Linked DNA regions of Homo sapiens: region 2 is linked to region 1. Evidence: fine-mapped expression QTL. A gene starts in region 1. The other region holds a variant in brackets. All regions are shown on one strand. Distances are between the middles of the regions. Region 1 holds the start of SH3BP4 (SH3 domain binding protein 4). Region 2 overlaps SH3BP4 (SH3 domain binding protein 4).

What was found. PIP is the estimated chance that this variant, and not a neighbour inherited with it, causes the effect. A credible set is the group of variants that fine-mapping cannot tell apart.
Region 2: its variant is the best candidate, but not a certain one, in a credible set for the expression of SH3BP4 in whole blood (INTERVAL, PIP 0.58).

What each region holds. Positions count from the first base shown.
Region 1 is chr2:234,950,820-234,953,716 of GRCh38, forward strand. It overlaps SH3BP4 (SH3 domain binding protein 4), which reads left to right and starts at 1,198. Exons shown (of 6, transcript NM_014521.3): 1 at 1,198-1,351. LOC105373938 (a long non-coding RNA gene) reads left to right here. Exons shown (of 7, transcript XR_007088132.1): 6 at 1-532; 7 at 620-980. RefSeq lists an enhancer at 1,651-2,300.
Region 2 is chr2:235,046,308-235,049,204 of GRCh38, forward strand. All of the region lies in intron 4 of SH3BP4 (SH3 domain binding protein 4), which reads left to right. Among named protein-coding and RNA genes, the nearest start is that of SH3BP4, 96 kb to the left of the region's middle. The variant C/T (reference allele first, on the strand shown) is at 1,460.

The DNA.
Region 1 (2,897 bases):
CATACCCGGTTTGAATTCAGACTCTGGCACGCCCCATGCGATCATAACATAGTGCTGCACGTCTCAAGCCACCTATAAAAACGGGGACAATAACAATATCTGCCTCGGGGTTAATGGTGAGGACTGACTGTGTGTGTCTCGCTCAGGACCAGGAGCAACAAATGTTGGCTTCTTCCCCGGCAAAGACCCGCGCTTTCTCCTGGGCTCCGGGTTCCCGGGGTGGGGGTGGGCGCAGTCCCGAGGGCCCCAGGCAGTGGCGCAGTGGTTAGACCCCAGCCTCTGGAGTCGGCCTCGGTTCAGATTCTGGTTCTACCCTTCTCCTCTGTGGCGAACCAACCCTCCGAGCTCTAGTTTACTCGTGTGAAATGGACTAGCCAAAATTGGGATTTTTTTTTTTTTTTAGGATTAGATGTGTCGGTCCATAGACGTTGCTGGCCACATAGTTAAGTGGTGCGTTCACTCACTGGGCATTGATGGAGCGCCTACTACGTGCCAGGCCTGTTTTACGCGCCGGGGGCCCAGAGGCGCCCAGGTCAGACAAAGTGTAAACGATTCCGACCAGAGCCCTTCAATCTGCATTCCGCTTCGCAGGAAACTCTCCTCCTTTTATGATTTTCAGCCGGACTGCCTTCCCTGTTGTTAGTTTGTAACTTTCGCTCCGGCCCCCGCAGCCTCGCGCCTGCCTTCCCTCCACTGTCCTCAGCCAAGGTGTAGTAAAGCGTCTCCGAACGCGGCGCGACCCTCGCCCACGCCCGCTCGCGGGGGGACCGCACCGCCCCAGGGGTCCTCGCTAGGGGTTCCCGGAGAAGGGGTGGGAGATGGGGGTGCGGGGGGGCACAGGAGCGCGGGCCAGCACCCAGACCTGCTCGGTACCGGGGACCCAGACCCGAGGATGCCGGGCGGCCAAGGCCCCGCTACCCTGGCCGGCTCCGGGCGGAGGAAGAAGAGGAGGCGCCCAGACTGGATACCCGCCTGGACCCGGAGCCGCGGCACCACCCCCAGCCCGCCCCACGCTCGCCAGCCTCAGACGGCCGCGCCCCGCCCCGCCCCTCTCCCGAAGCCCCGCCCCGGCGCGGGACCACCCCCTCCGCGGCCTCAGCTCCGGTCCTGGCCCCGCCCCCCGCGCCCCCGCCCCCGCCCCCGCCCCCGCCCCCGCCCAGGCGCGGGACCACCCTCCGCCCGCCGAGGCGGGGGCCCAGCGCGCCCGGCACTCTCGGCGGTCCGGGCCCCTCGCCACTACCGCCGCCGCCGCCGCCGTGAGTCCCGCGGAGCCGCGCGCGCCCCCGGCTGGGCCGAGCCGCTGGCCGACGAGCGGAGCCTCAGGAGCCGGCGGGGACGCCATGCGAGCCAGGTAGGCAGGCGGCGGCGGGGAGCGCCTCGGGCGGCAGGGCCCTGGGGGCCGGCGGGGGCGCGGGGTCGTGCTCGGGGGCTTTGCACTCCCTTGCGGGCGCAGATCGTGCCGCGGGCGCCGATCGTGCCACCGCCGCCTGAGTTCGGGGCTGCGCGGGTGCCTGGGCGTGGGGCGGCTTCGGGGAAGCCTCGCGCGCCCCTCGCCGCTCCCCCGGGCGCTCGGGTCTCCCTGGTGCTGGTGGGCAGGGACCCGGCCCGGGGTTCCGGGCGCCGAGCCGCAGCCCTCCGCGTGCGCTCGGGCCGCCCCCCAACCCCGGCTCTGGCCACTTCCCGGCGGGCGGCCCTGCGGGGTGGCCTCCCTGGGCAACCGGACGCGTCCTCGGGCGCAAATCGGGGGGCGCGCTCGGCTCACGGGGGCCGTGGGGGCCACGGGAGGGCGTGGAGGGGTCGGGGCGCCCCCCTCGAGCGGCGCTGGGGAGGAGGGAAGGACGCGCGGTCTCCGGTTAAACTTGTTGGTGACAATGCATATTTCAACTTCTTCGGAGATCCCTCCTGTGAGGATGAAATTGAAAACTCCGGTTTCTGGCTTGGCGATCGGGTGACCGAGCAGCCGCGAGGTGACAGCGCCGGCGGCCCGCGGGCGGGGACCGGCTGGGATAGAGGCGCGTTGTTCTCTGAGCGATGTTTACCGAGAAGCCCGCTCCGCGGCACGGGCGGGTGTCAGTTGGGACCCCAACCCTGGGTCCCGCGGCTCCTAGCCCGGGGCCTGCGGTGTAGACGGGGGTTGGGGACAGGCCCAGCTGGCCCTGACCGGGTGTCGGGCGCCCAGAGATGCCGCGCGGGAGGAGCCGCGGGAGAGCCGCCGGACTCAGCGAGCAGAGGGTCGTGGAGCCTGATGGATCGATGAGATCTGAAAAAGAACACTGTGCGAGATTGTATTCCTGCTTATTCTTTCCAAGTTAGTAGGCAGATTGGAACTATAGAATTTATCCGTGATAATAATAAAGTTCGCATAACTTTTGTTCTGATTACAGAAACAATGTATGCTCAGGACAGAAAGCTAGAGATAAAGAGAAATATAAACAGCAAACAGGAAACCATCCCCAATCCCACATTTTTTACCAGCCTTGTCACAGCCTGGCAGATTTGAACATTAAGTTAGAACTGGAGCCATTCTTGCCTAAACCAGAGAATCCCTGAATGCAGCCGCCCCTTCTCACCCTTGTGACCGTCTCTGAGCTCCAAAGTTTGGGTTTTTTCCTTGCTCCCTACCCGGGCAGAATCTCTGCTGGCCACGAGTCCCCTTCCCAGTGGGCTGGGGGCTTTCCTTGAGATCCGTGGCCCAGATGAAATGATGGGAGAGGCCTGGATCCTCACCGCCCTCTGTGGTTTTGGTTCCTTGCCTTGTAAAAATGAAGGTAATGATTCTCAATCTGCTTCTCAAGCCACCATAAAAATTAATGGGTGGTTTGCAGAGCGTTTTGACATCCGTGGATGGACAGCGGCTGTACTTTAAGGCGCTGGGGAACATTCTACTGTTCCTCATT
Region 2 (2,897 bases), 95 kb after region 1:
CCTGTAATACCAGCACTTTGGGAGGCTGAGACAGGAGAATCGCTTGAGCCCGGGAATTCAAGACCAGCCTGAGCAACATAGTGAGGCTTCATCTCTCCAATTTTTTTTTTTTAAATCAGCCAGGTGTGTTGGTGTGCACCTGTAGTCCCAGCTACTTGGGAGGCTGAGGTGGGAGGATCACTTGAGCCCAGGAGGTCGAGGCTACACTGAGCTATGATCGCAGCACTGCACTCCAGCCTGGACAACAGAGTGAAACCCTGTCTTGAAAATAAAGGAAGAGAAGAAAAGAAACAAGTTTGTTTATGTTCTTGTGCACTTGTTTCTCATTATTACTCTAACTGAACATAGGTCCCATGAGAGGAAGGGCCCCGGCACATAAGAATCACTGAGGTACTAGATGGATAAGTGATTGAATGAATGAATGATGGATGAATGAATGAATGATGAATGAATGAATGAATGAATGCAGGCCTTGGGCTGGGCTAAGAATCCAAGCGGGAGGCATTCTCACGTGGCCATACCATGCTTCTGTTCTGTGGTTCCATTTCCTCTTTCCATTCTTTTTGTGCCTGTTTTTGATAGAGTCCGTGTGTGAGGCATCCCCGTACCTCTGCCTGCCCCTTCCCAGCAGCATGGCTGTGGCTGCACTCAGAGCACCCCTCTGTCCTGGCCACTTCTCTCCCACCAGAGCCTCTGTCCGTGATGGTGTCAGCTGAAGAATGACAAGGTTTGTTCATTTGGAAAGGAGAGCCTCATTCCTCATAAAGGGTTGCAGCCTGTGGGTGGCTATTCTGACAGGTTGGGAAGCAGAGCCTCCTGCCAGAAGCCAAAAACAGACACTTCAAGGGAGGGGCAAAGGCAACAAGAATTTATGGATATTGGTGGCCAAATATACATATTCAATAAGCCGTAGGGGGAGTCATGAGTATTTATGAAAGGAGAAATGTGCACATTCACATTTAAGCCTTGTGCTCCTTCAGGGGTCCCATGTACAAAAAATGGTGGCAGTGGCATGATTCAAGGGTAGGGTTTTCTTTCAGCCCCCTGATGCGTCAGAGGCGAAGCAGGGGACATGAAACCCTCGCTGTGCATCCTCTGTAGACTGGCCAGAAACACTGCGTGGTCGGTGGGCTCCCGTCAGGCAAAGAGGAGGGGCAGCGTCTGGCAGTGGTAGAGGCCTTTGAAAGGGAACCCAGCTTTTTAAGAATCAGAAAAGTCATTCAGCAGCGCCCTTTTGATGCAAGAGACTATTCCCAATTCTCGGGATACTGTCAGCACTCGGCACATGGTCTCTGTTATGGTGGGGAAGGAAGGGGAGTCAGCTGGAGATAGCCGTGGGCAGTGGCCATCAGCCATGGGAGCAGAAGCAGCCCACGGTGGCCTCAGGCCCAGGGAGAACTTCCTAAGGGGCCAGAGTGAGCTGTCACAACTGGTCCTGGATCCACCATAAGAACGAAGC[C/T]GTGGGGTGTGGTGACCTGGAGCCGTCGGTGATGGCTGTAGCAGGGGCGTTTTGGTCAAGTTGCGGGAGGTAGGGAAATAGGCGTGTCGGGCTCTGTAGAGAAGTTTCTATGAGAAAGGGAAGGAGTTGCTGTGGGATGCAAAGCAAGGGAGGGTGGTTGTTTTGGGAGTGGAGTGGGGGCCGGAATAAACCCAAAGAGACTTGAAAACTAACAGAAATAAGGAAGCTAGCAAGTGCATGGGGCGCATTGGGGCGGGAAAGACTGGTGTGGTGTGAAGGGACTCTCTGTGGATTGGGAGAAGACCCACTTTAACCTCCAGAAGAGGAGGAGTTGATGGACAGTGTGCATTGGATGGGGTCCTGAGGGATTCCTCCCAGGCAGCCCCAAAGCCAGAGCCTGTGGCTGTTAATGTGGGAGAGGGAAGGAGGATGGGCCCATTGTCCAGATGCCATGTGCAGAAGGCTTCCCCTCGAGTTTTGGGGCATGTTGGGAAGGAAGCAGGATGGAATAAACATGCAGCAAAAAAGCCTAAATTGTATTTCTTTGTACTTTATAAGAGTATTTTCCCCCGCCCCTTTTTTGAGAAAAGGTCTCGCTCTGTCTCCTAGGCGGGAGTGCAGTGGTGTGATCACAGCTCACTGCAGCCTCGAACTCCTGGGCTCAAGCAGTCCTCCCACCTCAGCCTCCCAAGTAGCTGGGACTACAAGCAGGTGCCACCACACCCAGCTAATTTTTTTTTTTTTTTGTCTGTAGTAGAGACAAGGTTTGATTGTGTTGCCCAGGCCGGTGTGGAACTCATTGAGCTCAAGCTATCCTCCCACCTCAGCCTACCAAAATGCTGGTATTATAGGGGTGAGCCACCATGGCTGGACAAGAATATCTCTTGAAGCAAGTTCCCAGACTCTGGCCGCCAGGCCCGCTATTCCTGTCAATGGCGTTTTGTTGGAACTCAGCCACACCCATTCCCATCTGCATCGTCTGTGGCTTTCAGGCTTCGTGTGTCCCACAAAGGCAAAAGTACTATCTGTCCCTTTATAAAGTTCAGTCACCCTGACTGAAATCATGGTGTACTCACTGTAACAAAATTCCAGTTGAAACCAGGGTAGTGCAGCAGTCCATCGAGTGTTTCCTGGTGTACCTGTGTGCCCATAAAAAGAGGAAGCTGCAAGGATCAAGTTCATAGAGCTAGAGCCTCCTGCTGTGAAATTTTTCTATTGCTAAGAATTGGTTGGCACCCAAAATTTGTCCTTTAAAAATATGCATCAGTTATGCCTTGTTGATGGTGTGGGTGGTTTGTAACAAACTAAACCAGGGCTGGGCTCAGTAAAAGTTGTGTAAGTGAGTGAGGGAGAGATGCCTTCATTCTTGGTGTTGGAAGTGCCGACCTCTCCTTTCATCTGGGATCCATGGAAATGGGACCTTGGCTGCCCCTGGATG